5 linked regions of the Homo sapiens genome follow. The protein of the gene in region 1 purifies or fractionates together with the protein of each later gene. This does not show direct contact. Each region holds a gene or a part of one and is shown in the gene's direction. Other genes may lie near its edges.

Evidence for each region.
Region 2: the proteins of IDUA (region 1) and IGSF3 fractionate together in Homo sapiens (co-fractionation; one large-scale study listed by BioGRID). This does not show direct contact.
Region 3: the proteins of IDUA (region 1) and QSER1 fractionate together in Homo sapiens (co-fractionation; one large-scale study listed by BioGRID). This does not show direct contact.
Region 4: the proteins of IDUA (region 1) and ROBO2 fractionate together in Homo sapiens (co-fractionation; one large-scale study listed by BioGRID). This does not show direct contact.
Region 5: the proteins of IDUA (region 1) and TXK fractionate together in Homo sapiens (co-fractionation; one large-scale study listed by BioGRID). This does not show direct contact.

Annotation. Positions count from the first base shown.
Region 1 is NC_000004.12:997,025-1,000,543, forward strand, and holds part of IDUA (alpha-L-iduronidase isoform a precursor), read left to right. Parts: intron 1-1,340; coding exon of another isoform or gene 1,341-1,965; intron 1,966-2,399; coding exon of another isoform or gene 2,400-2,731; exon of another isoform or gene 2,732-3,040; intron 3,041-3,519. Other genes in the region: uncharacterized protein LOC124900646, read left to right, coding at 1,341-1,965, 2,400-2,731.
Region 2 is NC_000001.11:116,661,227-116,664,745, reverse strand, and holds part of IGSF3 (immunoglobulin superfamily member 3 isoform 2 precursor), read left to right. Parts: intron 1-3,519.
Region 3 is NC_000011.10:32,930,802-32,934,320, forward strand, and holds part of QSER1 (glutamine and serine-rich protein 1), read left to right. Parts: intron 1-941; coding exon 942-3,519. UniProt on the Homo sapiens protein: Plays an essential role in the protection and maintenance of transcriptional and developmental programs.
Region 4 is NC_000003.12:77,046,583-77,050,101, forward strand, and holds part of ROBO2 (roundabout homolog 2 isoform 23 precursor), read left to right. Parts: intron 1-3,519. UniProt on the Homo sapiens protein: Receptor for SLIT2, and probably SLIT1, which are thought to act as molecular guidance cue in cellular migration, including axonal navigation at the ventral midline of the neural tube and projection of axons to different regions during neuronal development.
Region 5 is NC_000004.12:48,110,247-48,113,765, reverse strand, and holds part of TXK (tyrosine-protein kinase TXK), read left to right. Parts: exon of another isoform or gene 1-24; coding exon of another isoform or gene 25-104; intron 105-456; coding exon 457-559; intron 560-1,253; coding exon 1,254-1,459; intron 1,460-3,162; coding exon 3,163-3,228; intron 3,229-3,236; exon of another isoform or gene 3,237-3,519. UniProt on the Homo sapiens protein: Non-receptor tyrosine kinase that plays a redundant role with ITK in regulation of the adaptive immune response. Regulates the development, function and differentiation of conventional T-cells and nonconventional NKT-cells.

The DNA of each region.
Region 1 (3,519 bases):
TAGTTTTGTCTTTAAATCAGCCGTTTTACATTGGAGTCCATTTACTGGGAAAGGAGACCTTGCATCCTTGCCTCCCACCCGTGGGAAGAAGCCCGGCCGACAGGGCTTTGAGACCGGACCCGAGTTTATTCCCAGAGACCCTCCCGCGGGTGGGCGAGCTCCGAGGTCTGGAGAAGAGGAGGCCCCGGCCCGCACCCTCTAGCACCTGTGTCCCCTTCGTCCCGGCCACAGATGCAGGTTCTCCCAAGAGGCGGGTCTGTACCCGCCCCGCGCCCCCAGCCCAGCGGGCCCGGCCTCCGCCCCTGCCCCGCACTCCCACCCCCACCCTCAGGAGAGCGCGGCCCTGCTCCCCACCCCGCGCGGTCTCCCCCCACCGCCTGCGAACCCCCATGCACGCGCGGCCCCGCCCCGCGCACTCACCAGGCCCGGCAGCCGCGCGGTCTTAGCGGCTCACGCGCTCGGGCCCAGGGGCGGGGACGTGGGGACCCGGGCGGCCGCTCAGCCGCGGCCGCGCGGTGAATGAGCCCGTTGTGCGGCCGCCGCGGCCCCAGCGACACCCCGCGCGGGGTCTACAAGGGCTGACGCGCCCCCGCGGCTTCCGTTCCCGGGCTGGGCGGTGGCTCGTCTGCGTCTCCGGCCCTGGGGGTGGGCTGCGCGCTCCATCTCGCCGGCCCAGTCCCCTCCCCAGCGTCGGTCTCTCAAGGCCCCTCCCAATGGGGGCCAGGCGGAGGGTGGGCCCTCGGGCCTGTGGACTGACCCCGGGGTTCCTGGGCCTGGGGGCGGGGATCCCTGTCCCGGGCTCCCCTCGCTGCGAGGCTGGCCCTGCCAGATGACACTCAGAGGCGCCTTGGGTGTCAGGCCAGGGACATCTCTGATGCTGGGGCTCCCCCCGCTAGGGTCAGGGGCTGCCGGGCTATCGCCTTGGGGTTCTGCAGAGAAAACCTGAAGCCCAGCTGGGTCTTCACTTTCCTCCAGGTCACCGTGCCCCGCTACTCCAACTCCGTGGGACTTTGGAATGCACCTTCTGGGCATTTAATTCTTATCCAAGTGCCTCTTAAGTTATACTTCTTTGCTACCAGTGTGTCCTTTGGATGGAGGGGAGGAGAGGTGGTAGGGGCCGGGTGGGGTGGACCCCAGGGACTCCTGCTGCTCCTGCTGGACACCCAGCCCGGGGTACAGGAGCAGGTGGGGACCAGCAGAGGCGGGGCGGAGCAGGAGCCCACACCCAAAGGCTGTAGACTCCTGCCAAGGCTCTGCCTTGATCTTGTACACCATGGGAGGACCAGAAGGGAGGCGTTGAGGTGTCCAGACCTTTGCTGTGGAGCTGGGGGTGCTGTGGCATGGGGAGACTGACAGACGGGGAGCTGTATAGGGCCAGATTCCGGTCCATGGTGGTAACCCCATCCCCCACCACTGCAGATGCGGCACAAAGCCAGCTGCCACAGGAGGTGCACTGCCCCACGGGCAGCTGTGCTCACCTGCGTGGCGTCCGCAGGAAGCCCTCAGACCCTGGCCAGCCTGGTCTCTGCTTCTCACTCCAGGCTCAAGGCTGGCTGCTATTCCATTCACCCCATTCCCTTTCCCTCAGGCCAGAAGCATCACTCACAACTCCAGACCCTTGCACACCAATCTCCTCACTCAGTTCACCCTCAGATGTCCAACTCCACATGGCCAAAACCGAGACCAGTCTCACTCCAAGCTCATCCACCCGCCTAGCTGCCCAAGCTGAAATCCACAGTTGCCCTGTACGACCCCCCGACCCCCCACCTCACCCCCCAGCTCACCTCAAACCTCATCAGTCCCTCTGCTCACAGCCTGCACAGCCACCACCCAGTCTGGGCACCATACCTCTCTGGGCAACCCCCATGGCCCCCAGCCAGTCTTCCAGCTCCCACCCTGACTCCAGTGAGCTGCCAGAGGGATCCTTGAAAAATGCTCTGGAAGCCAAGGTGGGCGGATCACGAGGTCAGGAAATGGAAACCATCCTGGCTAACATGGTGAAACTCCGTCTCTACTAAAAATACAAAAAAATTAGCCGGGCGTGGTGGCGGGCGCCTGTAGTCCCAGCTACTCAGGAGGCTGAGGCAGGAGAATGGTGTGAACCCGGGAGGGGGAGCTTGCAGTGAGCCGAGATCGCGCCACTGCACCCCAGGCTGGGCAACAGAGTGAGACTCTGTCTCAAAAAAAAAAAAAAGAAAAAAGAAAAATGCCCTGGCACTGCTCAGCTCAGAACCTTGAAAGGGATCCTTGTTTCGCTCTGGGTCAGGGTCCCATCCTCAAAGCAGTCACTTCCAGAGCCCCATGGAGCCTCATATCCCATGATATCCACCCTTATTCTGTCTCAGGCCCACCAGCTGCCTCCCTGCTGCCTGATTGTCATGTGTGCATTCCTGTTCCAGAGCCTTTGCACTGGCGATGCCATCTGCTGCCTGGATGTCTTCCTGCTGGCTGGTCCCGTTGCATGGTAGCCTTAGGTGTCTCCTCAGAGAGGTCCCTCGCTGACCATCAGGCTCCTCACTCCCTGTCGTATCCCCTTCACCAAAGATTCCCATTCCCTGACGACGCCTGTCCCCTCGGAATGCAGGCCTCGTGGGAATTCAGCCCATCCGCAAGTGCAGTGGCAGGGCGGCCCCCTTCCCCCTTGACGACGCCTGTCCCCTTGGAATGCAGGCCTCGTGGGAATTCAGCCCATCTGCAAGTGCAGTGGCAGGGCGGCCCCCTTCTCCCTTGAGGACGCCTGTCCCCTCGTAATGCAGGCCTCGTGGGAATTCAGCCCATCTGCAAGTGCAGTGGCAGGGCGGCCCCCTTCTCCCTTGAGGACGCCTGTCCCCTCGTAATGCAGGCCTCGTGGGAATTCAGCCCATCTGCAAGTGCAGTGGCAGGGCGGCCCCCTTCTCCCTTGAGGACGCCTGTCCCCTCGGAATGCAGGCCTCGTGGGAATTCAGCCCCATCTGCAAGTGCAGTGGCAGGGCGGCCCCCTTCTCCCTTGACGACGCCTGTCCCCTCGGAATGCAGGCCTCGTGGGAATTCAGCCCCATCGGCAAGTGCAGTGGCAGGGCGGCCCCCTTCACCCTTGACGACGCCTGTCCCCTCGGAATGCAGGCCTCATGGGAATTCAGCCCATCTGCAAGTGCAGTGGCAGGGTGGCCCCCTTCTCCCTTTCCTGTGCACTCATGTTGCCTCTTGGGGTGTGGGAGGGGAAATGGGGCACTCCTGGGCCTCCAGGAGGTGCAGAGAACCAGGGTGAGGTGTCCACCAGGTCCTGCCTGGCTCCTGACCCCTGGCCCCTGCTGCTCGCGACTGGCCTGCCTCGTGCCACTGAGCCTCAGAGCCATTCCGAACCCCCACCCCAAGTTTTCCATCTCTTGATGGTGTAGGGTTGGGGGGTCTCCATGTACAGATACTCTAGTTCATACCAGGCCTTCATAGGGTTATTTTCCAAGGGGAAGGGCCCCTCGGGAAGCCGGGATCGGAGTCCTGTGTGGCACCTTGCAGGCTCCCACATGCTCCGTTGTGGCC
Region 2 (3,519 bases), on another chromosome or scaffold:
TGGGATACAGGCAGTGTCTCCATGTCACCTGTATGCTCAGGCAGAGTCAAGAAGGCAGGGAGCCCTTCATTTGCCAGTCTCTTCATATTGGATCTGTATTTGTTGTACTGTATGTGTCATTCGCTTAGTGTCTGGGTTTAAATCAGCAATTAGTGATTCATGTGGATTCAACAGGACACAAACAAGGAAAGCCCTTGGGGAGGTTTGGATGTGGGGTGGGGTGTGTGGCTAAGGCGGGAAAGAGGGCTGAGTGGCAGGGTGGGGCCCAGGGCAGGAGAAGTAACCATCAATGGGAAAACAAGGCAATGTGACATTTGTGCCTTTTGTTTCTTCTGGCTGCTCAAGTAATGTAAGGCTGCATGCTGGTCCCCCTGCTGTTCGCTCTCTGGGCCACTCTGTGGAGTGGAGCTCGGGCCCTGGCACCTGGCAGGTGCTGTCATTTTCCCTCCACCCTCATCTTCATGTGTAAACAGGTGCCATGGAGGAAAATGAGCATCAAGGTGGCTTTAAAGGGGCACAGTGGCAGACATCCAGATGCAGGCTGAAGTGGGAAGGTTTGGAACTGTAGGCATGCATGTGGATCTCTGCCTGATTTGGAGCCCCACTGGTGGAACCTCATCTTTCTCTTCACCTGATGGCTCTCAGTATGGCAGGAAGGAGGCCTGGCTACTACTTTACTAATCTGGGAGAGGTAGAAGGCGTTTGGGGAGGGAGCAAAACCCATGTTGGGGTCTTATTTCCTGCTTGTCTTCTGATGTGGTCTGGTTCATGTGTCAGCATTCTTGCTGCATAATGTGAATTAATGTGTAGTATGAATTTAAAACAGCGAAGAATCCCAAGGTTTTAAGCCCATATAGGTCACATGCCTGGAATAAAATTTTGTTTAAAAAAGTTGGATAAGGCTAAGTGCTCTGAAAGTGAGACCGATGCAGGTACCAGCCTCTAGAAATGGCAATTTTAGTTAGAAAACCCTGGACAGTATGTGAGGGGTATACAGGGTAAATCTCGGAGACGCTTTCATCTCCCTCAACATGACAGACCTGTGCTTTTCTGCACCTGTCCTTTGCCAGTGTCTGGGATTGGAATCAGATTCCTCTTTTCTGTCTGTTGGGATACTGATTCCTGCTTATGTCTTTGTCCTACCCTTTGTCTTTGTACCTACCCCCTTGACCTCTGTGTGTTGTTTCCTTCTGTCCTAACCCTAGGTGCCTCACCCAATAAGGGTTGTGGTGGCAGTGCATGGCTCTGCCACCACAACCCTTGGTTCCAATTACAAAGCCATTTAAGCCTGGCTCTGGTTGAACCATGAGGGTAGTAAAGTCTCTATTTGAGGATAGATGTGGCCAGAGGGGCAGAAGATTAGAGAGAGAATAGAGGCTGGTACAGTGGTAGGAAGGGAAGGGTGACTGGAAAAGTGCCTCTGTCTGGGAGCAGCCTGCATGAGTGACAGTGACATGGGAAGATGACAGCAATGTGGGAAAGAGAGCATAGGATTTGTGTCTGTAAGAACAGGAAGGAAATTCTCAGGAAAGATGAATATAAGCTTTAGACACATACAGCACATTTTGATTTTGTGTAGCCAGGAAGAGTTATATACCTCCCAGACCAGTGCTGATGTTGCAAACAAGATTAAATAGCTTTAAAAGTGTTAGCAATGAAAAATGTAGGAGATTGGGACATCTGAGAACCTGTAGATGGCAAATGATCATTTGTGTTCTGCTCCAGAGGGAGAGAAGTTCATTTGTAGAGTTTGGGAAGTCTCTTCTTTGAATACGGTAAGGCTGAGGAAGCCATCTCTTACTTCCCAGTTAGTTAGAAAAGGCTTCTGAAAGGGATTGAAAGAAACTTTGAAGTACTATGGGTGTGACCTCAGAGGCAGGGCTGGAGTGATCAAAGGCAGAGGAGAAAGAGGAGGCAGAGAAAAGTGAGATGGTTTGGAGCAATCAGGAGAAGGGTTCTGAAAGAAGGGGATGAGGATTGTGATTTATGGATGAACAAACACCACTGTCCTAATAGTTGTCCCAGAGGTAGTGCACTTCCCTTTCCTGGGGACCATTTGACAAGGGTGCAGGAGAAGGAAATTCTTGTCAGGAGGACTTGGCCTACTAGGATGCCTTTCAGCTGTGAGAATCATTGAGCTACCTCCAGGTACCCAGGGCTGTGTTAAGATGTTGCCATCTTCTACGGTTTTCATGGCAGCAAGACTGCTGGTACTTCCATAATGGCAGTAATACCAGCTCTCCTAACTCTAGCCCTTACTGTGACCCAACTATATCAATCAGTCTTCAAAACAACCCTGTAAGATAGATACCTTGCATTATCACATTTTTATAGATGGGGAGATTGAAGCTTAGGGAGGTTAAGTAACTTGCCTAAGCTGGGCATGGTGGCTCATGCTTGTAACCGCAGCACTTTGGGAGGCTGAGGCGGGTGGATCACTTGAGGTCAGGAGTTTGAGACCAGCCTGGCCAACATGGTGAAACACCGTCTGTACTAAAAATACAAAAATTAGCCGAGCATGGTGGCACATTCCTGTAATCCCAGCTACTCGGGAGGCTGAGGCAGGAGAATCGCTTGAACCCAGGAGGCAGAGGTTGCAGTGAGCCGAGATCGCGCCGTTGCACTCCAGCCTGGGCAATGAGCAAAACTCTGTCTCAAAAAAAAAAAAAGAGTCACTTGCCTAAGATAGATTGCTGACAGTGTTAGGGCTCCAAGCTCCTGCTGTCTTGCTCCATGTGCATGCTCTCTATTCCCAAGATGACTTCATGGTCCAAGATGACTCTTCTAGCCGCAGCCATCAGGAAGGAAGAAAAGGCTAGTGAAGGGTAGGACCTCTTAATGTAAGGATACTTCCTGGAAGTTATATACATCACTTCCACTAACATTCTCATTGGCTAGAACCTAGTCATGTGACCATATTTAGCTGCAAAGAAGGCTGGAAAATATGCTTATCCTGAGGGTCCATGTGTCCTGAGAAAAACTTGGGATTCTATGACTGTAGGGAAAGGAGAGAACAGATTTTGGGGGACAGCTGCCCATCTCTGCCATAGTCACAAAGCTAAAAAGTGGCAGAGTAGGGTTTTGAAGCCAGGACCATTTGGTTCCAAATCCTGTGTTCTTACATCTAATAAGCTATTCCGTTTGACTCTGAAGCCGAGCCTCTGGCTTCTAAGAAGGCTTGTTAGGAAGGCATGAGTTAGATGAACCAACGTTTGTTTCATAGGAAGCAACCTAAATCAGCATATAATTAAACACTACATTTTGTGGTTTTATCAGTGAGTATTAAAGTGTTTATAGAGTGCTTATGTGCCAGTCACTGTGCTAAACACTTTACATAGCATGACCTTCTGTATAAAATTCTTGAAGACCATCTGTCATGTTCATTACTGTAGTCCCAGAACTCAGCCTTGTGCCATGCAAAGTAAGCAGGTGTTCAGTTATTTTATTTTTTTTGAGATGGAGTCTCACACTGTTGCTCAGGCTGGAGTGCAGTGGCACGATCTTGGCTCACCGTAACCT
Region 3 (3,519 bases), on another chromosome or scaffold:
TAGAACTTTCAGATCACAAGGGTAAACCCATTTTTACTTTTGCTATATGTGGCTAAAATGCTGTCCTGAAATGTTAACAGTCTCTTTCTGACAGTACTTTGTTAATTTCTGATCAACTTTTCATGATAAACATGCATCTATTATGATTGGGAAGTTGTTCATAGGAAGTGAAAGCTTGAAATGCAAGAGATTTTTAAAGTGAATATATTTTGGTAAAAGAAACTGCAGTTCACTGTTTTTTTATATTTATTTATCATGTTAGATGTAGGCAATTTAGCTTTTTTTTTTCCATTTTAATGTTATGTACATTTTGGTTTGTCCATTGGTATTTTGTGTTGGTACTTTGGGATAAATTAATCACTAGAGATATGTACATTTTTACTGATTTCTTCATTTTCCTATGACCTTATCAAACTATATATAAATTATATAACAATTACAGATATGAATTGCTGATATCATTGTAACTTCATTTTTACTCTATGAAAACTAGCTAATCCAGGCGTGGTGGCTTGCACCTATAATCCCATCACTTTGGTAGACCGAGATAGGAGGATCACTTGAGCCCAGGAGTTCAAGATAGCCTGAGCAACATTGCAAGACCCCATCTCTACAAAAATTTAAAAATTAGCCAGGTTTGGGAGTATGCGCCTGTAGTCTCAGCTACTTGGGACACTGCGGCTGCAGTGAGCTATGATCGCAAGACTGCACTCTAGCCTGGGCAACAGAGTAAGACCCTGTCTCTTAAAAAAAAAAGAAAAGAAAGAAAGAAGCTAGCTATTTTGAAATGTAATTTTCAAAATTTACATGCAGAACTAACTGGTCAGGTTTTTCAGTCTTAAGACATTTTGATGAGTTGAGGGTTATGTAAGTCATTACTATGAAAACATAAAGTAATTGTGCCATAATTACATAAAAATCTTTGTGCCTTTTCTTCATAGGCATGCATTCCTCAGCAGCAACTGAGCTGTTTGCTACTGGACCTTTGCCAAGCACTGGAACACTTCCACCATCTCTCTCTGCTTATCAGCATCCCACCACCTTCAGCAATAGAAACTTTGCTACCACTTCACCTTTGGTGCTTCAGGATTCAACTTTTAACACTACATCAAATGGAATTTTAAGTCATCATGACCCTTTGCTACAAATCAAGACTTCCCAGGGAACTGTTCCAACTGCTTTGGCATTTGAGCGCCTGGGCAGTTCTGTATTAAGTAACAGCATACCACCTCAGTCTTCAACATACCGCTCAGCTCAAGAGTCTGCACCCCATCTTTTACAACCTCAATTTAGTTTGTTGCCTTCAGCACTTGGGGGATCCCAGCAGACTCCTCAAGCCTACAGTTCAACTCTCTTTACTAGTTCTACTGCTTCCATTGAAAGAGCTCTTCTTCGAGAATGTAGTGTTATTAAACACCATCAGCGGCCTTCAGGTACCCAGTCAATTCAGGCACAACTGACTGGTTCACAGCACTCCTTACATAGTTATCTATCAAATTCAAGTGTAGTTAATTTTCAGGAAACAACCAGGCAGTCATCTTTATCCTGTAGCCCAATTGGAGATTCCACTCAGGTGAGCAACGGAGGATTACAACAGAAGACCTCCCAGGTCTCAGTGGAACTTGCTCAGTCTTACTCATCTGCGATTCCATCATCAGGGTATCCTCCTTCTACTACAAAAATAAAAAGCTGTTCTACAGAACAACCACTGACATCAACCAAGACCCCTAAACCTCAAAGTATAATTCCTCCTGTGCAAACACTAAGCTATTCCAAACCTTTACATAATCAGAGTTCTGTAATATCGGGCCAAGCACAAATTTATTCTACAGCGCAGCTACCAAGCCTTTTATCAGTTAGTCAGTCCCAAAATTACGGTTTAGTACAGCCACATAATGTGCCATCTATTGTTCATTCACAGGTTTATAGGTCCAGCAAGGTTGAGAAATTGCCACCCTTGTATAAAACATTGACTTTTTCTGGGTCATCTCAGACTGTAACTCCTGAAAATCAGACGCTTAATTATTCATCTAATCAGCAAGAGGTATTGTCTTCAGTTACAAATGAGAATTACCCTGCTCAAACAAGAGATCTGTCTTCAGTAAGTCAGTCTCAAAGTTACTCATCTGGTCACTCTCAGGGTTTATCACCAGTTAGCCAGACACAGGTTAGCTATTCATCTCAATCACAAGTTTTGTCAGTTGTTAGTCTTTCAGAAAGCTATGCTTCAGGGGAGTCCCTAACATTAACAGCCCCTTCTCTTTCTTATTCTTCTGCCTCTCGGGCTCAGAATTTGCCAGACTCTAGCCCGACCCAGAATTATATTTCTATGCATTCTTCCCAAAATGTTCAGACTCAAGAGTCATCATCTCCCCAGTCCCAGAAGTTTTTGCCTGCTGTCCAGTCATCATCTTTTGCATCCTCTACTCATTGTCAGACATTACAAAATAACATAACTTCCCCTGACCCAAAGTCTTATGCTGAAAGAAAGCTTGACTCAGATGTGTATCCATCTTCAAAGCAAGAAGATGGTTTTCCAATGCAAGAGTTACAGGTGTTGCAGCCACAAGCATCTCTTGAGTCATCAACCCAAAGGCTATCTGATGGAGAAATTAATGCTCAAGAATCAACTTATAAGGTGTCAAAGGCAGATGACAGATATTCTCAGAGTGTAATCAGAAGTAATTCCCGTCTTGAAGATCAAGTTATTGGGGTTGCTCTGCAAGCATCAAAAAAAGAAGAAAGTGTTGTTGGTTCAGTGACACAACTTAACCAACAAATTGGCCAAGTCAATAATGCAGCTACCCTTGATCTTAAGAACTCAACTAATTTAATACAGACTCCACAAATAAGGTTGAATACTAAAGACTTAAAGCAGCAACATCCTCTCATACTTAAGGTGCATGAGTCCAAGGTCCAGGAACAGCACGATCAAATAATTAATGCTTCATCTCAGATTCAAATTCCAAATCATGCTTTAGGGCATGGCCATCAGGCATCTCTTCCTAATACACAGGTCCTTTTAGATTCTGCCTGTGATTTACAAATTCTTCAGCAGTCAATACTGCAGGCAGGTTTAGGTCAAGTAAAGGCATCTTTACAAGCACAGCGTGTTCAAAGCCCTCAACAAATAGTACATCCCTTCCTTCAGATGGAAGGTCATGTTATTCAAAGCAATGGTGATCATTCTCAGCAGCAACTCCATCCTCAAAATTCTGAAGTTATGAAAATGGACCTCTCTGAGTCTTCAAAACCATTACAACAACATCTAACAACAAAGGGCCATTTTAGTGAAACAAATCAACATGATTCAAAGAATCAGTTTGTTTCTCTTGGATCGATGTGTTTCCCAGAGGCAGTGCTTCTTAGTGATGAAAGAAATATTTTATCAAATGTAGATGATATCTTAGCAGCTACAGCAGCAGCTTGTGGAGTTACACCTACTGATTTTTCCAAGTCAACTTCAAATGAAACCATGCAGGCTGTTGAAGATGGTGATTCTAAATCTCATTTTCAGCA
Region 4 (3,519 bases), on another chromosome or scaffold:
CTTGTCACAGATCCCATTGCTACTTAGTGGTAGAGCAGAAACTAGACTCCAGGGATGCTTCATCTCTGTACCAGGCTTCTGCCTATGAGAGACTGTTTCTGGATTCTTAGCCCTGGAACTCCTTAACAAGAATTCCAGGCTCTTGTTACTGAAAATGACCAGCTATTTTCTGAAGAGTCCATGAGAAAATGAGCTTGAATATGTTTAGGTTATTCCTTTGATTCAACACATGCATATTGACAACATAACTTGCTTGGCTCTGTGAAGAACATGCTGACCTGTGAAAATATTCCCACATTCAAGGAAGTCATGACTTGGTAGGGAAGGTACCAAATGTTCAAGTCACTAGAATAAAAAAAGTAGTGTCTGATAAGTAAGAAGTTTGAAGGTGTACACAGTATAGTCTTGAGAACTCAGAGAAGGAATAGGTGATTTCCAGCTGGTACAATCTGGGAAGGGTCAACACCAAATGGGTCTCTTAACCTGGACCTTAGAGGAAGAGTGGGATTTTGGTGGGCAAAAAGATTGGAAATTGAATTCCAGGAAAAGAAGTAACCAGAAAAATGGCATGAAGATGACAAAGGGGTGCTAAGGAAATGGCAAGAAGTCTAGATTGATTGCAACATAGTTTGCCTGTAAGGAAGAAGGATAAGATGGTTATTGAAAGACTACTGAGCAATCACTACTGAATGAGTATGAACAAGTAATTTAACCTTTTTATGCCTCAGTGTCCTTACCTGTAAAATGGGCATGGTAATAATGTATATCTCATACAGTTATAATGAGAAATAAAATAGTTTTAAAAATATAACGATATATAGGCAGGGCATGGTGGCTCACGCCTGTAATCCCAGCACTTTGGGAGGGTGAGGTGTGTGGATCACCTGAGGTCAGGAGTTCAAGACCAGCCTGGCCAACATGGTGAAACCCCCTCTCTATTTAAAAAAAATACAAAAATTGGCTGAGCATGGTGGCAGGTGCCTGTAATCCCAGCTACTCAGGAGGCTGAGGCAGGAGAATCATTTGAACCCAGGAGGTGGAGGTTGCAGTGCCAAAATTGTGCCATTATACTCCAGCCTAGGCAACGGGCAAAACTCCGTCTCAAAAAAATATATATAATGATATATATAAATAAATAAATATATATATAAAATAAAGATGTATATAAAGATATATATGGGCTGGGCGCGGTGGCTCACGCCTGTAATCCCAGCACTTTGGGAGGCTGAGGCAGGTGGATCACGAGGTCAGGAGGTCGAGACTATCCTGGCTAATACGGCGAAACCCTGTCTCTACTAAAAATACAAAAAAATAATTAGCCGGGTGTGGTGGCGGGCGCCTGTAGTCCCAGCTACTTGGGAGGCTGAGGCAGGAGAATGGCTTGAACCTGGGAGGTGGAACTGGCAGTGAGCCGAGATCGCGCCACTGCACTCCAGCCTCGGCGACAGAGTGAGACTCCGTCTCAAAAAAAAAGATATATATGATGCCATGAACAGTGTACTTTATAAATGCCACTCAAGCATAACTTATTGTTATAATTAGTAGTATTTTTATTAGATTATTATTCCCTGCCTAGTATGAACAAGGAAAATAACTAGAAGAGGACTTTGCTATCAGACTAATTATGGACTACAATTGGGGTGCATGTTAGGACAATTTTAATAAGATTTTTCAGCTGTGAGTCTTCAGGTGACTGATTAAGAATTTTTGTTGCCTCTTAAGGGAACTTATCGGTGGCCTCGCCTACACAGCTGTGACAGTTGTGCTATGACATGTGTGTTTCCATTGCATCATAAGCTGATTACAAAACACATGTGATTCCCAAGTGAAAGGTGCGACGAATGAAGATAGTAAACAAGAGAGGAATCACACAAATGGCAATTTGTTAGCAAGTAGACCATGCTTGTGTAAGCCTGCATTTTGGTTCATGTTGGCTGATTTACATTTCATCCTGGATAATTTTTACCTGGTGCTTTGATATAACGTACTGTGGAGATAAATCTTGTGTAAGACAAACTAAATAAACACTTTGAGAACCGAAGACCTAAGTAAAAATTAACATTTGGTATCCACTCACTAATTCGTTTTCTAGATAGCCCCCTTAGCTTCCCTTCATTTAGTATAAGACATTGAATCTAATAACTTTTTATAATTATCCATTAGTTACATTTGCACAATGAGTAGTTATGCATATCAGAAAGGATAGCCTGAATAAAACAATATCATTACTATTGTGGAAGTGACATACCTTTGGTGACCAGATCTCTGGACTGCACTGTTAGCTTCCCTAGTGGATTGTTAATTGTTCTAATTGCCTTAGAACCTTACCAAAAATGGTTTCATTTGACTGTGTAATTTCCAAGGTCTCCATGAACCTTAGGTTTTATTATCCCAAGTACTTCTGTTTAATGTTCCAACATTTATTGTTATATCTGAGAATTTTTAAAGAAGAAAATTTAGCCTGGGCTCGGCGCAGTGGCTCACCCCTGCAATCCTAACAATTTGGGAGGCTGAAGCTGAAGGATCGCTTGAGCCTAGGTGTTTGAGACCAGCCTGGGCAACATAGTGAAACCCTGTCTCTACAAAAAAGAAAAAAAGTTAGCTGGGCATGGTGGTGTCCACTTGTGGTCTCAGATACTTGGGAGGCTGAGATGAGAGGATTCCTTGAGCCCAGGAGGTTGAGGCTGCAGCGAGCCATGATTACACCACTGCACTTTTGCCTGGGTGACAGAGGCCCCGTCTCCACACACACACTCACACAAATTTAGGCTTGAAAAGAATTATCCAAAACCATAAACATCCATCTTTAAAAACAATAACAGTCTATTGTCTAATATGCATGTAGCATATCTGTGTTTTGGTGTGGGTTCAATGATATGGCTATGGATATGCATGACAGCCAAAATTAACTAGTCTTATGATTCACATCCACTCTCATTCATTAATGACCAGTGGTACTTAGGCTTTCCTTATCAATAAATGGAATTTTAAAAATTTAATACTAAGGAGACAATAGTCTTAGGTCAATGTGCTTAGTTTCTGGCCACTATAACTAGAACCATATGCAACATGGAAATTTTAGCTCAGGAGAGGGGGTTAACAGCCACTTTTTAATTTCTGTTGTAAGGATTGATGTGGGATCTCTTTCCCTAGACTTTGGTTCCAAGCTTTTTGGAAATGAGCTGGAGAACATGGAATATAACTCAACTATCCCACTGAAAGGCTTTTCAAGTTTAAGCAAGGAACACCCAGTTGAAACCAGACTGGAATTTAAGGGATTTGGACCAAACCTCTGCAGCACTTATAACCAATTAAAATGTTCATAAGTGTGATTCAAAAAGGGAGAATTTTGACTTTCCAAAAAACTTGAGTTAAGAGTTATTCATTATAAAGGAAAGTTTATAAGTTTTTATAAATCAAGGTTAGAGTCGTACTTAGAAGTTTTATAATACGTATATTTCCAAATACTAGCAAATGCTAGAATATGATTAAACTTATTTAGATATATCCGATTATTAT
Region 5 (3,519 bases), about 47 Mb from region 1:
GCTTACCCAAGGCCACACTATGAAATGGTGGAGCTGGGATTCAAACTCTTGTTCCTAATCACTATACCATGTCTATTTATAACAAAAAGACACCATCAAATGAGGTAATGCATATAAAATGACAAACACTGAGCCAGATATGGAGTAAGTTTTCATTACAATGATTATAACTTTATGCCCTGAAGATGCACCAGACTCTACTGGGAATGTGACATGTTTTCTCAATTTTATTTTATAACAACTCTATGCTCTTAGCACCTCTAGTTCCTGGAGAAGGAAACTTAAGTTCTTAAAACCAGTAATTTGCCCAGGGAGATGGAGTTAGGAAGCCTTCTAAATGAAAATGGAGTTGGAAAGAGACCTGGATTTTTCTGCTATTTCTGTGAAAATCTAGTGGATGTATAGATAACTTTTGTACAAATAATTATTTGTAACATGATTGCTTTTCAATGTCAGACAAATGAGAACACAGATAAGCCTGAGCACAGATGAAGAGCTTCCAGAAAAATACACCCAGCGTCGCAGGCCGTGGCTCAGCCAATTGTCAAATAAGAAGCAAGTAAGTATCATTTTGACAGGCAAGAGGGGAATGGAGAAGGTTGTCTTTTTAGAGTCTTCATTCATGAGGTGCTGTTTGTTGCCCAGAATCTAGTATCCTGCTTGGCATAAAATAAGTGCTCAGTAATTTGTGAAGGAATGTTCTAGAAGAAAGTAAAAGGAAAAAGAAAAGACCAGTTAAAATAGGCTACTTATATTTAAAGGCAGAACTTGAAAATGGGCAATGAGTGGGAAAAAACATATTCTGGCTTCTGTCATTTTGAGGCTGAGATTAATTTTCACTTCAGTGAGAAACAGCATTCTTAGGAAGTATGGTAAACCCAAGCACAAACTGCCACCACATAAAAAGAAAAAGGCCATTTTTCTTCTTTTAAGGAGAAAAAAAATCCTTAAAACAAGGTAAAACTATTGAAGAGGAGTACATCATCTTTTGAAAATTTTGATATGAAAAAAAATCCAGTAAAATGCTGTCAAGAGAACTTGTGATCTCAAAAGTGTACAAAATGATGAGTGTATTGCTGGATCCTAAAGGAGTTTTATAGTTAGTCCTTTTCTACATTTATCTCATCCTGGCTTCTGCCTTGGTGTAGCTGGATAAGAAAAGTGAGGCAGAAGGCAAATATGCTTTGTCCCTATATTTTTTAGTACAAATTATTAAAATGATAGTAAAACAACTCACTTATTGGTTTTCACAGTCCAACACGGGCCGTGTGCAGCCGTCAAAACGAAAGCCACTGCCTCCCCTCCCACCCTCTGAGGTTGCTGAAGAGAAGATCCAAGTCAAGGCACTTTATGATTTTCTGCCCAGAGAACCCTGTAATTTAGCCTTAAGGAGAGCAGAAGAATACCTGATACTGGAGAAATACAATCCTCACTGGTGGAAGGCAAGAGACCGTTTGGGGTAAGACACTTACATGACTTAGTCAGTATCCAATTCTTCCAACACAAAGAAGACTACTTAGTGACTCAGGCTTATAACTCTTCCCTCTGCATGAAATGGAATCTGTCCCCTCTCCCCCAGGATGTGTGAGAGAATGAGAGAACAGTGATTTCAGGCAGAGTCTCAGAACCAGATACACCTGGCTTCACATCCTGATGCTGCCGCTTACTATTGTGTGTCCCCGGGCAAGTCACTTACCGTCTCTGAGTTTTTGTTTCTTTATTTGTACAATGGAAATAATAATTCTGACAATGTAGGTTCTTATTCTAATTTGTGCTTTCATTTGGGAATTTGTCAGTTTTTTCCTGTTAAGCTCTAAGGTAAGAACAGAAATAGTATTTTATTCACTTTTATGTTTCTAGAATGACTAGTTTTGAAAGCAAACATTGCAGTCGCTGCTGAATTAGATTAGAAAGAAAAAAGACCCTGGGATGCAGATAGGTTTCATTGTGCCAATTGCAACAGATGGTTAATGCCTGACTGGAGTCCTGAGTTGAGAAGAATTCTGAGGAATATCTGGACTTCCTGAGAGAGAAGGCTGGCATTGATTTCTGATATTTGCCAAGATTTGGAGATTTTAAGTATCTAAGTATTATAAGCATGTAAATTACATACCTCTCCAACTACATTTTCTCAATGATGTGGCTCTCTTAACAGTTCTCAACATGTGGTGGAGACTTTTCAGTGGAAAAAGAGGCATTAGTAGGTTCAGGACTGTGTAATTAGCCACACCTGCGGGTATACTATTGGCATGCCTCAGACTTAAAAATTGAATTTTTTATTTCACAGTAAGTGAATAGAGTTTTTAAAAATATATAATATGCAAACATTAATGTCAAAATTCTGCTTTGCCACTACCTCCAAACCCAAGTGTCTCCCCAAAAGTAAATACTATTATCCATTTTCAGATTATTTTCAGTATACTTACATGCACATATCAAAATATATGGTATTGTTTGTAGAATTCATTTACCTAAATCTTATCTTACTTTCTGCATGATTCTGCAACTTACTTTTATTTCTCAATAATATGTCTTGGAGATCTTTTTGTAATTTCAAATGTTGGTTAAGGTATAGGAAAAGTGAAACTTCTACCATGCTGATAGGTGTGTAAGTTGGTATATCCTCCTTTGAGGACAATTTGTTGCATATCCTGAAAGATGTACATATCCCGTGACTTAGCAATTCCCGTCTTTGCTATCTGTCTTTGAGAAATATTCTTCTGTACAAGAAGGCGTGTTCAAGGATTTCTTTACAGCGTTGCTTCTACTAGCAAAGTAGCTAAACTAGAATACCTATGCTATGGAATACTCCTCAGCAATTGAAAAGAATGAAGTCGATGTCTTTGTAATTGCTGTGTTTTTAACATAATCACTATGATATCAGATGATCATTTAAGTGCCCCTTTTTCTCTCTGAAAAGATTGTGGGGTCATAAAACCTCTTAAACTACTCACATTACAAGTTGGCATCTTAATACATTCCTTGTACAGAGATTTTTGTTGAGTTAGAAATAAAAAAACTTTTTTTTCTCCTTTTAACAATTTAATCAGTAAAATGAATTTGATTTCCCCCCTACATCCTTGAGGTTTTAAAAGGATTGTTGCCATGATAATGCCACAAACATGCCAAGCATTTTGATTTTTGCTTTTTCTTTTGTTGTAGGAATGAAGGCTTAATCCCAAGCAACTATGTGACTGAAAACAAAATAACTAATTTAGAAATATATGAGTAAGTCTTCTCCAAAATATAACCTATGAAAATCAGGGACATTTTGGCAGCTTGTAAGTATAGATACTGTTTTGGGTCTGTAGAAGGAAAAAAAAGTAACACATTTGACAGCGTTAATAATAAAGAGACGTTTGATCCTTATCATGGTTGATTCAGAAACTTCTTTTCCTTATACTTATTTTTGTTCTGTTTTGTATAGCCACTTTTTCTGTTTTAACAGTGACAGCCTGAACCCAAACACTCATCTGGCACTTATTTTACTATATATCTTAACTGGAAAATTTACTTTAA